4 separate regions of the Homo sapiens genome follow, and all the other regions are linked to region 2. The links come from fine-mapping of genetic effects on gene expression. A gene starts in region 2. Each other region holds a variant in brackets. All regions are shown on one strand. Distances are between the middles of the regions. Region 1 overlaps GPATCH2L (G-patch domain containing 2 like). Region 2 holds the start of GPATCH2L (G-patch domain containing 2 like). Region 3 overlaps GPATCH2L (G-patch domain containing 2 like). Region 4 overlaps LOC105370575 (a long non-coding RNA gene).

The links.
Region 1: its variant is fine-mapped to the expression of GPATCH2L in whole blood (INTERVAL, PIP above 0.99).
Region 3: its variant is fine-mapped to the expression of GPATCH2L in whole blood (INTERVAL, PIP above 0.99).
Region 4: its variant is fine-mapped to the expression of GPATCH2L in lung (TOPMed, PIP above 0.99).

The regions. Positions count from the first base shown.
Region 1 is chr14:76,209,415-76,214,568 of GRCh38, forward strand. GPATCH2L (G-patch domain containing 2 like) reads left to right here. Exons shown (of 10, transcript NM_017926.4): 10 at 1-4,929. Among named protein-coding and RNA genes, the nearest start is that of GPATCH2L, 60 kb to the left of the region's middle. The variant C/A (reference allele first, on the strand shown) is at 2,999.
Region 2 is chr14:76,148,843-76,153,996 of GRCh38, forward strand. It overlaps GPATCH2L (G-patch domain containing 2 like), which reads left to right and starts at 3,080. Exons shown (of 10, transcript NM_017926.4): 1 at 3,080-3,149.
Region 3 is chr14:76,200,436-76,205,589 of GRCh38, forward strand. GPATCH2L (G-patch domain containing 2 like) reads left to right here. Exons shown (of 10, transcript NM_017926.4): 10 at 1,256-5,154. The coding sequence ends at 1,416. Among named protein-coding and RNA genes, the nearest start is that of GPATCH2L, 51 kb to the left of the region's middle. RefSeq lists an enhancer at 2,859-3,288. The variant C/G (reference allele first, on the strand shown) is at 2,127.
Region 4 is chr14:76,263,346-76,268,499 of GRCh38, forward strand. All of the region lies in intron 2 of LOC105370575 (a long non-coding RNA gene), which reads right to left. Among named protein-coding and RNA genes, the nearest start is that of ESRRB, 110 kb to the right of the region's middle. RefSeq lists an enhancer at 4,381-4,675. The variant G/C (reference allele first, on the strand shown) is at 2,014.

The DNA of each region.
Region 1 (5,154 bases), 61 kb after region 2:
TGTTCCTCCTCCAAGCCCAGTGAGGTAGGAGGAATTGCTAATTAGATTAGTGAGATTCTAAGGTGGGTCACTCCTGTTTACTTATGAGTTGCTATTTATGAAAAGATGGCCTGGACTGTGTTCCCTCTTCTGCTTTCTCCTCTTCCGGGTCTTGGACTGGTAAGGGGGCCTGTGCCCAAAAGGGGCTCCTCCACCTAATGCTGTCTTTAATCTGTGGCTTTCTGCTGCTGGTTAATTTTTTAATTTGGCTTCCTCAAGCCTTTTTGGCCTTGAACTTCATGTTGATTTTTATCAAAGAACTTTTTATTGGGGCATCAGCACTAGCCCTATGAATACAGTGAAACTTGGGGTTCCACTTTCATCAGATGTGACCCTGTGTGTTCCTGATGTCTTTGAATCACTAGTTTCTGATTCAAAATATGGGGTAGGTGGATCTGATTAGTAGTCATATGCCTGTGTCCTGGCTAGGAAGTCAGAATGAGGTTATCTGGAAAGTTGAGCTTCCTCACACATGGGAAGGTACTTCAGATGCTGGACAGCCAATAAGAATAACAAAGGTCCACCAGAACCATTGCCCCAGTCACTGATTGAACAAACATTTACTGAACACTGATGAAGCGAAGTCCTCCTCAGGGACCTCTTAGGGAAGAGGGTAACTGCCCTAAAGCAGGATACTCCTGGGCTCCTTAGATATACTATCCTTGAAACTATTAGGCCCCTGTCCAGAGTACCTAATAATAATAATGGCAAATATGTATTTGGTGGTCTGCCATTTGGAAGCAACATCTCACTTATTCAACAACTCTAAAGGTAGGTACTTTTATCTCCATTTTAAAACAATGAAATACACTTACAGTTACAGACAAACTTGCTCGAGTCACATATCTATTAAGTGTCAGTCAAGATTCAGATTCAAGTCTGATGTTAAAGAGTGTCTGTTCCCAATCAATACCTCTGCTGCCTCTTTTTACAAACTGAACTGTTGGAGGGCATGTACATATGCATAAGCTGTGGGCCACTGGGCCATGGGCCAGTGTCTGATGAGACCTCTTTATTGACTTGTTTGTCCTGGTGGGCTGTTTCTCTACCAGGCAACTGTGAATGGGCTCATCCCTTCTCTGTGCGTACATGATTGAAAGGAGATAGCCGGTTTCTGTGACATCCTCTTATAACAACCTAGTTTTGTTCTTGAGAGTGACCAGAGCAAGAGAAAAGTCAATGAAATTTTGCAGATCTTGCAAACCTGTGGCAATAAGAAGGTATTATCCTTTCTGTACCAAGGCACAACTGATTCCTAAGTGAGGGGGATATGTGTTCTGAGATGTTAATGTTAGTGATAGACTGTTTTCAACACCTTGGTAAACATTTCTTTTGACTGTTAGCAAAAGCTGCCTTAACAGTCTTGGCTTTTAGAAATGCCCCTTCATTCATTAGATGTGTATGGAACACATCTTATGCCAAGCACTCTGCTAGGAGCTGGGTATACAGAGAAGAAAGGCATTCCTGCTCTCATGATGTTCATGGTCTTCTGCGGAAGAGACCAGAAAAAAAGTATTACAATGTAGAATGAAATAAGAATGACAGGGTATTTTGGCAGCAAGGAGGAGGGCACTTTAACTCAAACTGGGCAGTGGAAGAAGTAAAAAAAAACATTGAAAGAAATCCTGAAGGATAAGCAGGAGTTAAGAAGAGTGGATGAAGCCCTCCAAGGGTAAAAGCATGGTTTATTCAGAGCACTGCAAGTGTTTTAGTATGGCCCACATGTAAAGCTTACAGAGGAACAAAGAGAGAAAGGCAAGAGCCAGGAAGTGAAGGGTCCTGTGTATACTGGCTTACTTGTTGAGTTGGAGAACTATTGCCGTATTCCTCTGCTAAGCTCAGGGTGCATTCGTGGAAACCCTACTGCAACTGGCCCATTGTGCATACAAAGCTGGAACTGAGATGTGAACAGATTTGCATTGCCTTGATCACCTTCCGTGGGAAATATAGCTAGGCCCACTTATTGGTAGGAGCTACTGACATGTTAAAACTAGGTTAAACTGAATTGGAAGTAATGGTGTATTTGGAATCATGGCTGACTGATTCCATTACATGTTCTAGCATGATACCAGTCTGAGGTTATTCCCCTTGAACCACCGACTTAGTAGAGTTTAATGCACAATGTGATGGTCTTAGTTCCTTGTACTGTTCTTCAGTGTCAAAGTTGTTCAACTACCAGTTAAGTTTTTTGGGCTTTGTTTCTCAGTAGTGACAATAAATTTGTGTTGATCTATTTACACCTTTTGGACTGAACACCTTAGCAATCATTGATATTTTAAGCCTACAGGAAGTGCCCATGGGATAAAACCAATCTGCTGGCTCACACTAAGTTCTGATCCCATGATTTTGGTCTCATTAATACCGTGCTATAAATAAAGTTAGCTAAATCTTTTGAAACTGCATAAAAGTGAAATAATTATGAGTTTTGGGCCAACATTTTTCCTGAACAGCTTCTGACTGACCAGCATTTTAAATTAGGCGATGCAGTCTAGCTTTTGTACATAGAAATAAGAAAGTGACTTATGTTCCATTATTAAAATAGTATAGGGAGGACAGGTAAATTACTAATTTTTCATTGCTCATAGTAGAGAATTAAGGTATATTGACTAGTGAAATAGAGGATTATGGGGATCATATGAAAATATGATTAAAGAGATTATCACTAGAAGAAAAATTCAGACTGCTAATTATGAGAAAAAACATGTATGCACAACCAAACAAATCACAAAAATGAAAGATGTCTAAAACCATAGAATAGGAACAAATGTACCTGTCATATTAATAAAAGTAAACTTATCTGTAGATAAAAGGCAAAAATGTCAGCAAACACTAATTTCATGTTATAAGATTCAGAAAGGTTGAGCAAAAGTAAACCAAGCAAACACAAACAAGAAAATGAGTTGTAGTCTGCATATCAGGCAAGGTTGAACTTAGGGAAAAGGAACCGGAAAAAAAAAAA[C/A]CAAAAAAAACCACGACATAATGCTAAAGGGTGTGACTCACGAGATAATGTTTCTAGATATCTGTGTACCAAATAATGGAAAACCATTTATGTATTGGAAACCATAGGAGACACAGGAAGAAACAAATACAATGTTAGTTGGATATTTTAATTCAATTCTGTCAATTCATGACAGATCAAGTGGATAAAAAACTAGGACATGGGATGATTTAAATAAGATACAGAAGATCTAGTTGATGCATATTAGACTTTACCCTAAAAGTGGTAACTACACTTCAAAGTATCCATGAAACATTTCCCCATTTGACTGTGTATTAGAGCGTACAGAAAACATAAGTTTCAGAACGGAAAAAAGGAACAACAGATGGCATTTGCTGATAAAAATGCAATAAACTTAGAATTTGAGGATAGGTGGTCAGAAAAAAAAATGCAATAAATTAAAGCCAGAAAACACTGCTCATCTGCAATCCAAAATGTTTTTAAGCTCTTCAACTATTCTTGGGTTGATTAGGAAATGCAAAGTATTAAAAAAACATTTCATATCTAAAATATAAACTTGTTCCTCTGAGATACAAATAAAACAGTGCTCAGAGGAAAATTCATTGCCCTAAAATTTATGTATTAAAAAATAAGATAAATGTCATATAACTCAAAATATTAGGAAAAGGAATCTTTTAAAGGCAGGCTAAAAGAATCAAGAAAAATTAATTAGAAAAATGAGGAAACAAAGCTAATTTTTAAAATATGTAGTAAAATATGTAACATTTTAGCTAACATTACAAGAGAAGACAAACACAAAATAAGAATTACCAAGTATTGAATAGGTAAGAGTCATAAAATATTCTTTGCTCAACTGTATGCAAACAATTTAAAAACTTGGATTAAATGGATAATTTTCCAGGAAGGTATAGTTTGCCAAAAAATGACATCAAAAGAAATCTAATATAACAATTGTCATAGAAGAAATGAAGTAAGTATTTCAATTAGCATGACAGACTAAATACTTTTAAAGACCCAATGAAAACAAAGAAATGCATTTGGAGAATTAACAGAAACTTTTTGTAACACCAATTTTTTATTTTACATTTTAAAGCATGGAATGGAATTTATTGTAAAGACGTGTATTTTATAGAATCCAAGCAAAAGCTCACCAGCCAGAGATAAAGTGAGGCCAGCTCAGGGAATGTGAGCAGTGGCGATTTATTCCCTCTGGTGTTCCATGTTAGCCTGACACAGAGCCCCCTCTTCACATTCTCAGGGGCTCTTGATCCAAAACCTTTTTTAAAAAAAATAATTTTAGACTTAACAGAAAATCTGCAAAAATAGATTTCCTGTGTGCCCTTCTCTCAGCTTCTTCTAATGTTAACTTACATACCAATGGTACAATTATTGAAACTAGGAAATTAACATTGGCACAATCCTATTAACTACATACTTTATTTGAATTGTAGCTGTTTTCCCAGTAATGTTGTTTTTCTGGTTCGGTATTCAATCCAGGATCCATATGTACTTGGGTCTTTCTGGGTTTTCTGTTCCACTGGTCTACTTGTGCATGGTACCACACTGTTTTAATTATAGAGACTTTATAGTATGTTTTAACAACTGGCAAGGCTAGTCCCCCTTATAATTTTTCCTATTGTGCTTCTGGCTATTCATACATGTTTGTTTTTCCATGTGAACTTTAGTATCAACTTGTCTAAATTCATTTTTTAAGGTACATTGGTATTTTATTGATATTATATGATATTAACTGATTTAGAGAGAACTAACATCTTTAAAATGTGGTGTCATCCTATCCAAGAATAGGAGATGTATTTCCATTTATTCAAGTCTATTTTGTGCCTTTTAGCAGTGTTTTAAAATTATCCTTGTGTAGGTTTTGTGCATTTCTTGCTAAGCTTATCCCTAAGTATTTAATTTATTTGCTAGTAAATGAGATTTCCTCTGCCATTATGTCTTCTAACTGGTTATTGCTCTCTATATAAAAGCTACTGATTTTGTATGCTAATATATCTTGCTACCTTACCTAATTTTTTTAAAAAAATAAACAACAGAAATTTATTTCTTATGGTTTCACAGTCTGGGAAGTCCAAGATCAGGGTGCTGGCTGATTCAATGTCTGGTGAGAGCTTGCCTTCAGGTTCATAGATGGCACC
Region 2 (5,154 bases):
AAGGAAGAAAGAAACTGTGGAAGAAACTAAGCTTTATTTTTGACATTTTATTATATTTACTTATTTATTTTTGAGACACGGTTTCACTCCTGTCACCAGGCTGGAGTGCAGCAGTGTGCTCTCAGCTCACTACAACCTCTGCCTCCTGGAATGAAGTGATCCTCTTGCCTCAGCCTTTCCAGTAGCTAGGATTACAGGCGCCCACCACCACACTTGCCTAATTTTTTGTATTTTTAGTAGGGACGGGGTTTCACCATGTTGGCCAGGCTAGTCTCAAACTCCTGACCTGAAGTGATCCACCCGCCTCAGCCTCCCAAAGTGCTGGGATTACAGGCGTGAGCCACTACGCCTGGCCTATTTTTGACATTTTAAATTGGAAATGCTGGTGAGGTGAACAAGTGGAGCTATCTAGTAGAAAAATGAAAATATAAGTTGGATTTCAAGAAATTTGGGAGCTTTCAGTGCTGATGCAGGCAATCAACACCGTGGGAACAGATGTGATTTGTGGGAGAGAATTTTCACTTATGCAGAAAAGAGGCCTAAGGCTGTGGACACCTGTTGAACATTTCCATATTTCTGTCCTGTGGGAGTCACAGATTCAGCATGTCCAAAATGGAATTAATCATCTTTCCACTAAACCCGTTTATCTTCTTGACTTCTCTAGCTGTGCAGATGGCACTGACCATTGTCTTAGTTGCCCTAGCTCAAAACCTCAGCTATCTTTGTCTCCTACCTTGACTTTTTTTCACCTATAGAACATTCTGAAAATCCACAAAAAACAATAGATAGGAGATATAATCATTGATAATGAAACCATTTCGGATATTGTATGGTGGCTTCTTCTGGTCATATTCCTTTGCGAGTATAGATTTAATTTCCTTTGTATGGGAATCATACTCTACATTTTTAGAGTAATCTTTTTATTGAAGTATAACAGTCATGCAGAAATGTACACAATCATAAGTCGATGGCTTTTCATGTCATTAAATATTCTTTTGCAACATTAATTTTTAAAAGTTGCAAGATATTCCACCCATAGATGTACCATAATTTAGTTAACTAACCCCTGTTGTAGAACTTCTGGCTTTTTCTAGTTTCCTCATCTCTCCCTCAGAAATGCTGCAGAGATGATTTACCTATATTTAACATTTTTGCGCCCATTTCCAATTTTTCCTTAGAATACAATTCTTTGGGGCAAAATTTCAGGGTCCAAGGTATGTGCATATTTTTAAATAAACTTTTTTATTTTAGGATAATTTTGGGTTTAGATAAAAATTATGAAGATTGTTACAGTTTCTGTGTAATTCACACTTTCTCCTATTATTCACTTTTTTTTTTTTTTTTTGTGACGGCTGAGTCTCACTCTGTCGCCCAGGCTGGAGTGCAGTGGCTCGATCTCTGCTCACTGCAACCTCCGCCTCCTGGGCTCAGGCGATGCTCTTGCCTTAGCCTCCTGAGTAGGGACTGGGACTACAGGCATGTGCCACCACACCTGGCTAATTTTTTGTATTTTTAGTAGAGACGGGGTTTCACCATGTTGGCCAGGCTGATCTCGAAATCCTGACCTCAGGTGATCCGCCCACCTCAACCTCCCAAAGTGCTGGAATTACAGGTGTGAGCCACCACACCAGGCTATTCACTCTTACAGAAGTATAACACATCTCACAATTGCAACCAATATTGATACGTTATTATTATTATTATTATTTTGAGACGGAGTTTCACTCTTGTAGACCAGGCTGGAGTGCAATGGTGCGATCTTGGCTCACTGCAACCTCCGCCTCCCAGGTGCAAGTGATTCTCCTGCCTCAGCCTCCCGAGTAGCTGGGATTACAGGCACGTGCCACCATGCCCATGTAATTTTTGTATTTTTAGCAGAGACAGGTTTTCACCCTGTTAGCCAGGATGGTCTCAATCCCCCAACCTCAGGTGATCCGCCTGCCTCGGCCTCCCAAAGTGCTGGGATTACAGGCGTGAGCCACCTCACCCGGCCCGATACATTATGATTAACTAAAGTTGATACTTTATCCAGATTTCCTTAGTTTTTACCTAATGTTCTTTTTTCAATTGCAGCGTCACACCCAGGACACCATATTACATTGTCATGCCTCCTTAGGCTCCTCTTGGCTCTGAGTTTCTTAGACTTCCCTTGCCTTTGCTGATCTTAACAATTTTGAAGAATACTGGTCATGCACTCTGCAGAATGTCCCTCAATTCGGGTTTGTCTGATTTTTTTTTCTTATAATTAGACTGGGTTATGAGATTTGGAAGGAAAGTACCATAAAGTGCCATTCTCATCATATATCATTCCACATACTATCAACATGATTTAGCACATAGTCTTGATCACCTGGCTGAATTACTGTTTGCCAGGTTTCTCCCCTGTAAAATCACTCATTTTCCCCTTTACAGATGTTGTACTTTTGGGAAGGAAGTCACTATGCACAGCCCACATTTAAGGAGGCAGAAGTTATGCTGCAGGATGGCTGTCTACATAAGTTATTTGAGATTCTTCTGTGGGGGATTTATCTCTTCTTCCTCATTCGTTAATTTATTCAATCACTTATATCGGCATGGGCTCATGAATATTTCTTTTGTACTTTGAGTTATAATCCAATATCACTTGTTTTATTGCTCAAGGCAATTTGAAATGTTCTGAGTAACTCAGTGCAAAACAACCTCTTCCAAAGGTTGTACCAGCTCACAGGGTAGACGTCATTAAGATCCATTTCCCCTCAACTTCACAGACCCATTAAAAAGGTCAGAAAGCAAGAGATAAGCTGACATCCCTGCCTAGCGCCCAATTTCTGGAAGCCCCTAAGGAAGATGAGGCCAGCATGCAGGGGTCTTTCCCCACGTGGGGCACCTCAACCCCTGAGACGCCCTTTCCCGGCCAGACCCTATTCAACACCCCTCCTTGTCCCCTGCCCCATCTCCTGGCTTCCTGTGGCTCCGCCCACCGCGGGGCGGAAGTGGGTGTGGCCACGGGCGGAAGCACTGGGTCAGGGGCCCAATCGTGCAGCCAGCCCCTCCCACTCGCCACCGCCCCACCCCTCCGGCCCAGACCGGAAATGAGGTCAGAGAGGGAAGCCCCGGCGGTGAGAGTCGGCCCAAAAAGCGGCGGCCGTTGGAGGTGGCTGCGGCAGCTGGTGAGGGGGAGGAATGGGTTGAGAGTGTTGGGGTCCTGGGGGCTAGTACCAGAGGGGATCGGAGCGCCAAGCCGCGGCTGAGCGGCTAAGGGCGTCTTGGGGCTGCGGCAGACGGCCGGAGGGTGAGGGTGGTGGGGCCTTGCTTTTCAGGGCCCTTGTCCCCATCCCTGGGGATGTGGGTCGGGCCGTCTCCGGGGCCACAGCCCCCTCTTCCCCTTTCTTCTTTCTGCCTCTCTGGGGCGGGCTGCAGCCTGAGGGCTTGGTGTCCCGAGCCATGGTCGCCCCAGCCCTCAGGGACGGGCCGGGGCGTGGTGGAGAGTCCTTCGAAACACAGTTTTTGTCATATATGTGGCCATGTTGCGACCCCCGATCCCGGAGGGAGCTCAGTCGCCAAGACTTGCATTTTGGCAGTTTCTGCCCTAGAAGAGCCGATCCCCGCCCCTCGTGAGCCCAAATGAGCAGTTGCCTCCTGCCTCTCCCACCTCCTACTCCGCCCCTCACTTCCACCCTGCTCCTGTCTCTCTTCTTACTTGCTGTCCACCAGCTACCCGTTCCTTCCTGTGCGTGACTCAGCCTCATCTCTGCCCGGGTGCGTGCCTGGCCGCCGGGTCCTCTCGAGAGTGTGCATCCGCGACTGGAGATGGGGAGTTCTAGGGTTCTTTTGTCACTACTGTTGGAATTACAGGCTTTGAGGCAGGAAAGGATTCTGCACAGGCATTCGACTGCAAGTTGTTTGATGACTTCGTTCCATGTTCAAGTTTGTGCTGTTCTGCCTGAGGTTTTTATTTGTTCTTTTGTTTTTGTTTTTTGTATTTTTGTTGCCTGAGTTTTTAAAGCAGTAATTCTTTATTAGGGAAGTAGATTTTGACATGCTGTTCCCACTTGTTTCTTTATTTTGGTCTTAGGGACAGTTGTCTCCCAAACCTCAATCATGGCATTTTAATCCACTTTTTTTTTTCCCATTTTTTCCCCTTCTTTTCACAGGTGTTGATAAACCACTTCTTAATGCTTAAAAGAACTTGGTCTTGTTTAAATGTATGTGCTTTTGGACACTTTGAGAAGCTTCGTTTGTATGGTAGTTTTGGAAGTAGGTGTCACTATTGCTCCTACAGGTGTGGCAGATAAGCCAGAGGACTGTTTTCCTGTCTTTAAGTTCATTGGCATAGGCACAGCATGAAAATAGGTTTTAGAAAGCCCTTTGCAAAGTGAAAACTGAATGAATGGGAATATGGTCAGAGAGTGGCACCACTTAGAATTTTAAGCTGATCTTGAAATACTTTGGGCATAGAGGCAAGAGAAAAGTGCTAAAAATTTAATATGTATTTAATTAGATGCTGTACAAATTAAATATTTCCCCTTAAGGGGGAATTTTGAAGATTGCTCCTACTACTGTCATTTCTTGAAATGTTTGTCTCTGAAGTGACCCCTGAAGTGTGATGTTTGGTTTGAGGATGAACAGAAAAATAAGAAATTTTGGAAAGCAGTTTGGCCAGAAATCTTAGAAACTTCACCCTATCCCTGTCATTTCAGCTGCTATTGTATCCTAGTTTTCTGTGATTGTGTGGCACTGAAGCACATAACTAGGACCAACATTTATTTTCTGGAGGGTAGGAGAGGGGCTTAAAAATTGTTAATTATTCAAAAATATATGACATACTGTATAAGGTTCTATACCTGGTAGCTTCCAGGTGGTAGTTGGTACCAGAATGGGCGCAAACTTAGTCTCTTCTCCATTCTGACTTCAAACCTGGGTCACTACAATTTCTTGGATCACGAAAACTGCATTCTTCCTTAAATGGTGTCACTAAGTTGTCTTTCTGTTTCTTTCTGCCATGGTCATTGTCAGCAGTGACCCCAGGCCAAAGAACAGTTTTTCATTCATTCTCAATACCTCGATGAGACCATGTGCTACTCTGTGTTTCCACAACTCTAGTGTGATTTTGAAGTTGTATGTTTTTCTGTTCCTGTCTAGTGAGACAGTCTCTAATCTTTCTGGATCTCATCA
Region 3 (5,154 bases), 52 kb after region 2:
CAGTTAAATATGAGTGAGTATATGTGCCTGAGTTTGTTGTGAGTGTGTGTGTATGAGAGAGAAAAAGAGAGAGATTTGAGTTGTCAAATGTATTTCCTGCTGCTGTGGTGACGTTCCAAAATGTTTGAAAGCTGTTGCCCTCAAGAAACTCTTGTATATAGAGTAACAGCTTTCAAGATATTTTTACATTAGCCCACAATAAGAAATTCATGTTTGAATATGTGCGTTGGTTGTACATGTAAATCTGAAATAAATCTTGGGTACATGCCGATACTTTCTATTTTTTTCATTGAGTAAAAAAAGTAATGGCCATGACCCACTAAATTGATTTTGTGATCCACAATTTGAAAATTACTGTTTTAGGTTACGTTTCTGGGACTGGAATTATTGGGTGACGGTAAAATCCAAACTTCCCTAGATTTTGCCATATTTTAGTATATATTTGTTCTCAGCAGAGTGGGTAGAGATGATGGTGGTTTGTGCCACTCCACTCAGGGGCATTTGGAAATGTGAAGTAAATGTTTGTTTGTCACAATGACTGGGGAGTGTTCCTGGCATTCAGCAGATAGGATCCAGATCGGTAAGTGTTCTGAAGTATACAAGACAGCCCTGCACAAGCCATGTCTCCTGTCCAGAATGTCTTTAGTGATCTTATTGAAAAATATTGGGCCTGATTGTGCTCTTTTTCTACCATTTTCCTTGTTGTATGGTATATATTTATTGGTAACACTGCCCTATCGGAGGCATGGGTTGTGGCAGGAAGAGCGTGGGGTTTAGAGTCCAGTATGTGTGCTTGAATCTTGATATTTAACCAGCTCTGTTTTATCCCTGAACAATTTATCTGATCTCTGTATACCTTAGCTCCCTGATCTAGAAAGTGGAGATCACTATGAGTCATCTCTATGAGCATCTATGAGTAAGGGTTTGCATTAACAAGATCATGAGTATTCATTGTTTAAGCAATACACACATAAGTACGTAATAAGTGATTTTTACTACATTATGAATGCGTGCTACTGAATTTATTTGTTCAGTTGAACCCATTTTCTCAGATTAGGAAATACTATCTTATTTAAATCTTGTCTTTACTTTTTTGTAGAGAAGAAAGAGATACCTTACGTGGCCACTTGGGTTACTAGGACATGAAGTATAAGGATTAAGAAAATTTTTTTTCTAAGTATCTCTCATTCTAATTTGTCTTATTCTAATTTATCTCCCCTTGATGTTTTGCTCCTCTCTGTTGTAACCTTACTAGTTCACATGGATGCAGTGGAGCCAACCACACCAGCATCACAAGCCCCCAAATCACCCAGCTCTGAGTGGTTGGTGAGGACCTCTGCAGCAGAGAAAGCCACAGACGCAACTACTGCTACATTTTTTAAAATGCCACAAGAAAAGAGCCCTGGATACAGCTAGAGAGCAGGACTTCACCCTCCAGGAGCTGACTGGGTGTTGCTGAAGCAAATGTTGGACTTTGTGTTAGATAGTCTTGCATATCTTAATCGACATTCCCAGTCCTTTCACCACCAGAACCAACTCCTCTTTCAAACACAGCAGTGGATTCTTTCTCTCAGAAGATCATGTTGTGGGAATCTTTTTTTTAAATAGTGAAATATTGAGGCAGCAATTTTTTACAAAAAGGTCATCCTCTGCTCTATTTGTTACCTTGTTATTGCTGTCTCAACATTTACTACAGCTCCATTTACAGAACTGTTGCTTTTTTGCAGTTGTCTTTGTTCTTGAAAAACCAGTAACTGCTTCTGCATACCTTTTGTGTAGAGCTTTTAATATCATTTGAGGAAGTTCCAAATTTGTAGCCAGTTCCAAACAAATTTAAATATTGAGTTGAGACCTGTATGGAATTGTGTTCGCAGGAGATAAGGCTTGCCTTTGAGCCTACTCTTGATTCATGCAGAGTGCCAATAAGATAAATCAACCAAGTTTTGGGGCCTCAAAAGAGACACCAGCAACTGGGCCTTGAGAACTTCCATTTTTTTGCAGATTGTCTGCAGAAACTCAGACAGCTCATCAGCAGCAGCAGCTGTATTGTATTTTACCTCATCTTCAGAGTTTATGTTCTACTGAAAGAGGACGTGTGTATACACACACACACACACACACACACA[C/G]AGATTGGTATAATGGAGAAGATGGTTTAGGTGTACAGCAAATTTAAAATAGTCAGTGGATTGTGTCTTACTACTTCATGTCCCAGTGTAAGCCTTTATGTCCTAAGCAGGACTTTATTGTTAGTATTATAGGCTAATAACCTGCAGCAGAAATTCATACTCTATTATAATAATGGCTTCTTGGGGCCATGCTTTGGGGAAGTAAAATGTCTTTTTGACATGCCTTTATACTTGGCGTGTTTATGATGGCTCAGCTGCATGTGGAGTTATATATACAGTCGTGCCTGAAGTTGGATGCTACTTTGTCAAAATGAGAAATAAGTGATGGCCTGGAGCTGCTGGAGAGAAGCCACGCTTTCTAGAAAATATTATCAGGAGTGTCTGTCATTCATTCAGGGGCCTAGCTGACAGAAGGGCTCTTTTTTTTATACCAATGAGTGCGTTTACTCTGAAATACATAGAAGCTCTTGGTGAAGTGCTCCCTGCTCTGGTCACATTGTAGAGGGACTCCCACTCATGCATCTGCTTATTTTCTGTCTTAAATAGGTGCTGAATGGGGCAGCACCTCCTTCCCCCAAAGTGCGATTGCCCCTGTTTCCCATACGAAGTGTAATGACGGGTTGCTTTTAAAATTATAGTCCTTATCAATGGAAACTCCAGATTTCTTTATCAAAGGGAGGTGGGTGGGCATGAATCTAGTTGGAAAAGGGGACTTGAAGCTAAGTTTACATGGCACTTTAAGACTGAGAACATATCAATTGTTCATAATCAGGAATATGGTAGAGGGAGAGCAGGTGTAGATGATGGGACGGGAAAGTGCTGAAACCAGCCCAGCAGACCTGTGAGTCGCCTCTGGTTCTCACGCAGCAGTGTGTGTGTGCTCACAGGGATGTTCCACCCCTGGTTCTCATGCAGTAGTGTGGGAGAGTGCTGAAGCCGGCCCAGCATGCCTCTTAGTTGCCTCTGGTTCTCATGCAGCAGTGTGTGTGCTTACAGGAGTGGAGATGATGGGATGGGAGAGTGCTGAAGCTGGCCCAGCATGCCTCTGAGTCACCCCTGGCTCTCATGCAGCAGTGTGTGTGCTTACAGGGACTTCCCAGGCTGCACTTCCCTTCCCTGTGGGCTGCACCCGTAGAAGTATAGAAAATGTAATGTCTGTTGAATATAAAATCGTACCACTGAATTGTTCTAGTGATGAGGTTAGATTTTGTTGTCATGTGCATTGTCACCATAGTGACCCGTGGCATATATTTTTAACATACTTGGTTGGGTTTGAGAGAAATCTGTGGACGTAATTTTTTGTTTGTGTCAAGCTCTATGACTCATGCAGTGATTGGTCCCATGATCATGGCCTATTAGTGAAAACCTCCAAAGGTCAGGTGGCCAAGGTGTTCCCACATTTTTTCTATATAACTTGTTTCCTAATAGTCTGCCTTTCTACCTATGATTAAAAATAATTTTTATATACAACATTATTTACATTTCAAACATCTCTACGAAGTCATGCCATTTTAAGGAGATGAAAACAGCCACAGAGTTGAGTGACTTGCTCCAAATCACATAACTAAGCCAGGACTAGAATCCCAGACTTTCAGATTTTCTCTGCCCTGGGTTATAATCTCTTGTTTTTCAGTGATAGACCTGAGTCAGTCTGAGATGCTTATTTATGAAACAGTATACCATGAATATTTATTATCTTTCTTGGGCATGCTTTTCTACACATTTTGAATACTTTCAACAGGGATTACCCAAGAATGCAACATCTACCTGTAATAAATGGGGAGAAAATTAGTTGCCTGAGAGAACAGAATATTAAGCACACAAATACTTTCCAACACAGGGTTGTAAATTGTGCTCCTCATTTTAAGGTGCTGTACGTGCATGTTTAAGGAATTATTAATCAGTGTATTCTGCTTGCTTTCTGTATTAACCAGTTCCAGAGGATAGCCTTAGAAATGAGTGTATTTTGAATCTTAAAGTTTCTTTATATGCGGCACAGTGTATAATGTCGTAAGTTAAGAAAAATCTGTTATCTTTCAAAGAAGTTACGTAGTTTCAAAAATGAGGTTTTGTAATCAGTGTTGAAAAAACTCTGAACTATGACTTACTTTGAGGATGATCCTTGAGCTCATGTATTTGATCTGCTCAAAAGTAATAACTAAAGCTGAGTTAAACAGTTGTTATTTATTTCAGGGTTCTGATTTTTCCCAGCTGGCTACACAAATGGCCTGTCTGAATCCTAGTTTAGTGTGTTTTCCACGATGGGCAGAAGTCAGAACATTATCTGCTTCTGTGAGGATCATAATAAAAAGTTAGTTTTAATTACGAGTTTAAAGGAATTTTAGATTTTTTTCAGATGCAGTATTTTAAAGGAACAAAACTCCTGTGTTGCCTTTTGTTGTTGTTGTTGTTGTTGTTGTTTCCTAGAGACAGGTTCTTGATCTGTCACTCAGGTTAGAGTGCAGTGATGTGTTCATAGCTCACTGTAACCTTGAACTCATAAGCTCAAGCCATCCTCCTGCCTCAGCCTCCTGAGTTGTGAGGACTATGGAAGTGTGCCACCATGCCTGGCTAATTTTTTAAGTTTTTGGAGAGATGGGGTCTTGCTCTGTTGCCTATGCTGGTCTTGAACTCCTAACCTCAAGCAATCTTCCTGCCTCAGCCTCCCCAGGTGTTGTAATAATAGGTGCGAGCCACCATGCCCAGCCTTGTGTTGCCTCTTGGTAAGAAATAATAAAAAGAAATTAGTAGCTTGTTTACCTGGTACCAGATTTGGAGGGGGCTGAGTATAATTTTTACTGAGTGGTATGTGGTTGGAAAATAGGCCACATTTAGCCTTGAATTGTTTAGAAATCAAATGCGATTCAGAATTGAAGAGGACATTGCTGGGCTATGAAATAGGGTACTAACAAGGCTATTTTTGTAGCAAAATGGCCAAAAGCTGAAATAAATCTTCTTAGTCTGTGATGCTTGTAGCATCCTTTGTTAAGTAAAGCACAACACCCTGGACAAGCGACTAGTTATGACT
Region 4 (5,154 bases), 110 kb after region 2:
AGGCTGATTGGAAGATGCTCCTGGGGAGAGATGAAGTTTGGATTTACAGCATCAGCATGAAGGAGTTGCAAGCATTGGTGTTGTAAACCGCACTGGCACCTGACACTAAATGTGGGAAAGGGATGGGGTTCCAGAAATAAAGCAAAAATACCAGGCAATGGATGCACAGTGACTGAGTTTTGGGAGAGGCATAAATGCCAAGGAGAATGGGTTGTAGGTTCTATGTTGGGGTGAGGCTATGGTGGGGTGGAAGTATGAGTGTTGAGTGAGTGAGTATCATTGTCTCAGATCCTGGAGAAAGGTCAGCCTTGCATGGCATGGAAGGGCAGGTGTTCATACAGTTGGGCATTATGCCTGGCACATCACCTATGTCAACCCATTTAACCTTCACAACAACTGGGTATAGTAGGTATTATTGTTCCCATTACGCATATGAAGAAACTGAGGTTCAGAGAGGCCCTGTAATTGCATTGTGGTCTGATTCAGATCTGGGGTTTATAGCTAGAAGTTCTAAAGGAAGCCTTAAAACACTGCCGCACCTTTTAGATCTGGATTCGTAGGAAGGGAAGGTTATTCTAAAATGCAGTGGCAGACAGAGGGCAACAGACTGTCATCACCTCTGCATCTGGATGACTCTTTATGGTCATTAGCATCTCCCAGGGCCCTCAGTGAGCAGCTTCTCAAGGCAGGTCTTCCCTGATGGCAAGAGGTGGCATGAAACCTCCTCTGCCACATGCTGGCTGCTCCCGTACAGGTGGTCCGGCTGCTGCTGGCTAAGGACAGGCAGAGGAGGGAGGATGGAGGAAAGGTGAGGGCTGGTAGGTGCTCAAGCCACCCAGGCCAAACAGTGGCAGCAGGAGCAGCAGAGAGGCCTGCATTTTGGTGGTGCCCCAGGCTGCACTGCTATTTTCACTTCAGGGGCTGTGAGCAGAGAAGATCCTTCCACCTCACTCTTCTCATTTTACATGTGCCCTGAAGAAACATCCTACCCAGAGGCTAGAACATCTCCAACTATCTAGAAGATGGCCATAATTATTTGGTTAATAGCCACCTCCACCACTGAACTTCTGCAACTTGCCTCTGATGAAGCTGTTCCAATAATTGTTCATTTCTTCACCCATTCTTTTGCTCCACCAGTATTTCCTAAGCAGCTGCTATGCCATGTGCCAGACGCTGTGCTGCTCCTGTAGTATGGTAGGCAGACACAGTCCCTGCCCTCAAGAAGCTTACAGTCTGGTGGAAAGACAGACAATTCTCTTCTGCAGCTCCCTCTCTGCCTCTGCCCCAGCACCCATGCTGGTCTCTCCCAGAGCTTACATCCCCCGGGTCCTCCCTGCAGGCCAGACACCACGATGCCAAATGCGGGCTGCTCATCAAAGACTCCATTGAGAGCTGGTCGCTGTGTGGGGAAAGCAGCAGTGTTGGCTCCGAACCTGACCTGAGGAGGCATGGCTACCGTCAGTTCTGTTGTGACAGCCCTTGACAGCAGGTGTCTGTCATCTCCCCCATTCTATCCCCTCCAACCACCCCAACGTTTTTTGCCAGCCTCAAAGTGTCACTTCCATTTGGAAGGCATAGAGGAAGCTACGTGGTGAGAGGAACCTGTCATCACTCTACTTCTTGACCAGGGTGGAGGCCAGAGGACAAGTGGCATCTGTGCTGGGACATCCTAGGAGCCTGAAGCTGCTGCTGAAAGCAGCTGGGACCCCAGGTGCCTCTGCTGCAGTCCCTCTTCTCCCTGCCTGTGCCTTTAAAGAGGGTAGTTTTCTTCCATGGACCCATCACTGGCATTCATCTTCTCAGTGTGTCACTTGGTGGAAACGACAATATTTCCCTAGGTAGGGGTAGAGTGAGGAGTGGAAGGGAATGTCCTGGCTAAGGGTTTGAGCTGCTGGAGACTGACCTTAAGGGATGAGGAAGGGAGTGAACAAAAGGTAGTGAGTTGAGGCTTTGGGGTCAGACCAGGGCTGAAATTCTAACTATGACCCAGCAATTCACTGCTGGGTGTATACC[G/C]AAGAGAAATGAAAACTTCTGTCCACACAAAGACATGTATGCAAATGTTCATGGCAGCGTTATTCATAATAGCCAAAAAGTGGAAATAACCCAAATGTCCATCAACTAATGAATGCATAAATACAATGTCGCATGTCCATACAATGGACTACTATGTACCCATAAACAGGAATGAAGTGCGGATACCTGCTACAGCATGGATGAACTTCAAAACTTTATGAACTAAGTGAAAGGAGTCAGATGCAAACCACGCAGATACATGTTGTATGCTTCCATTTATATGAAATATCCAAAAAGGCAAATCTATAGATACATGTATTAGTCCATTCTTAAATTGCTATAAAGAAATATCCGAGACTGTGTAATTTATAAAGAAAAGAGGTTTAACTGGCTCACAGCTCTGCAGGCTGTATAGGAAGTGTAGTGACTTCTGGGGAGGCCTCAGGAAATTTTCAGTCATGGTGGAAGGTGAAGGGGAAGCAGGAGGAAGAGACAGAGAAGGGGCAGGTGCCACACACTTTTAAATGACCAGATCTCATGACAACTCACTCACTATCAAGAGAACAGCACCCAAGGGAAATTCACCCCCGTGATCCAATCACCTCCCACCAGACCCCACTTCCAATGTTGGGGATTACAATTCGACATGAGATTTGGACAGGACACAGATCCAAACCATATCAATACAGAAAGTAGATTAGTGGCTGCCTGCGGCTAGAGAAGGAGGACAAGGAGAGACTACAAATAGACAAAAGATCTTTTTAAGATGATGGGAATGTTCTAGAACTAGATGGTGGCAAGGGTTGCACAGCTTTGTAAACTCACTAAAAATCATTGGAATACACTTACAATGGCTACATTTTATGATGTGTAAATTATACCTCAATAAAGCTATTTAAAAAATCTCCATTATACCACTTCCTAGCTTTGGGAAATTACTTAACTATTGAGTCTGTTTCTTCATCTATAAAATGGGGAGGATGATACCTACTTCACAGGCTCACTGTGAGAATTAGGGGCCTGATTCACAGTGAGCACTCAAGAAATGTAAATGGTAGCAGTTGGCAGTCATTACTACTGCTCCTGTCTTTTTGTTTGTTTTTGTTTTTGTGGTAGTAGAAGTGTCTTGATTTAGAAAGAGAGGAGAGGGCTGGGTACGGTGGCTCACGCCTGTAATCCCAGCACTTTGGGGGGCCGAGGCGGGTGGATCACCTGAGATCAGGAGTTTGAAACCGGCCTGGCTAACATGGTGAAACCTTGTCTCTACTAAAAATACAAAAATTAGCTGGGTGTGGTGGTGAGTGCCTGTAATCCCAGTTACTCGAGAGGCTGAGGCAGGAGAATCGCTTGAACCTGGGAGGCTGAGGTTGCAGTGAACCGAGATCTTGCCGTTGCACTCCAGCCTGGGCGACAAAGCAAGACTCCGTCTCAAAAGGGAAGGGAGGGAGGAAAGGAGAGGGGAGGGGAGGGGAGCGGAGGGGAGGGGAGGGGAAGGGAGGGGAGGGGAGGGGAGGGGAGGGGAGGGGAAGGGAAAGGAAAGGAAAGGAAAGGAAAGGAAAGGAAAGGAAAGGAAAGGAAAGGAAAGGAAAGGAAAGGAAAGGAAAGGAAAGGAAAGGGAGAGAGAGATACCAAGAGATATCAAGCATCTTAGCTACCAGGAAAATTACAGGGTTTGAGGGTTTTTGAGATGTTAACTTCACTCCTTGTACCAGGTGCATGGTTTTATTCTGTTGTTTGTTGTTTTGAGACAGTCTTGCTCTGTTGCGCAGGGGGGAGTACAGTGGCACAATCTTGGCTCACTGCAACCTCCACCTACTGGATTCAAGTGATTCTCGTGCCTCAGCCTCCCAAGTAGCTGGGACTACAGGCACGCACCACCATGCCGGGCTAATTTTTGTATTTTTTAATAGAGATGGGGGTCTCACTATGTTGCTCAGGCTGGTCTCAAACTCCGAAGCTCAAGCCATCCTTCCGCCTTGGCCTCCCAAAGTGCTGAGATTACAGGCGTGAGCCACCACGCCCGGCCCAGGTGCATGTTTTTAATGGTCTGCCTCCACAATACATTTCCTGAATGTTCTCTCTGAATGCCAAGGAGTCTGGTTAAAACAAACAAACAAACAAAACCTCCCGCCAGCCAGAGGCATAATGGAGACGTGGGGCTTCTACAGATATTCATAGCCAAGAGGAGTTGAATTATGCTGGAGAGGGAAAACATAGGGGCCACGTGGTGCCCAGTGCCCCTACTTTCTTTCTTCTTATTCCAGCTCTTCATTTTTATTCCCCAATCCTGAAATGTAGTTGGGATTTACCATGAGCCAGCGGGGGCTGAAAGAGCCCCGTTTACCTCTAGGCCCTACGTTCCTCTGGACGAGTTTCATTTCCAGGAAACTGCTCCCCTCCTGGAGACAACAGGGTTTTCAGCAGCCCCAGGTCCGCGTCCATTCAGCCTAACAACCCCAGGGGAAACGTAAATGGTAGCAGTTGGCTGTCTTTACAAATAGTTTCAACAAAATCCCCAGGGTTCATTCTCTTTAAGTTCCTGAGACCTCACGCTCCTCCTGCGCGGATCGTTGTGGCCCGGAGAACACAGCAAGCTGATTGGCCAGAGCTGGTCACGTGCCCCGGCGGGCGGGGGAGGGGGCATGTCGGGGAGCCGGGGCCGGGGGCGGTCAGCCCCACTCTACCAACATTGATAGAAAGAAAAGAGGAGGTCTTCAAGGAAAATTAGAGCTTCTTACCAGAGGAAAGAGAATAACTGTCTGGCAGATAAATCCCAGATGTCCACTCTAACCGTCCACCTTGGAACCTCCACCTTCCTGTGCTCGTCTTAGAGGAATTCTAGAACTGTCGTTGGAGGAACACCGCTGTTTTCTAGAGGTCCCACAGCCGTCCTTCTGTTCATGCGGAGTACGGGCCAGCAGCTTCATTTTCCTAAGAGCATGTTAATTCCGTTTCTCATCTGGCTCATTTTCAAAGCCATGTTTCCACACTTAATGAAAACACAGTATCTGTATTACAAATGCTTGCTAAGGAATATAACCCCAAAGACTTAACTGGCCAACTCATAAGAATTTTGATTTCAAAAAGTAATTCACATGGAGGACTGTATGGAGCGTTTACACCCGGATAGTTCCTCCGGAT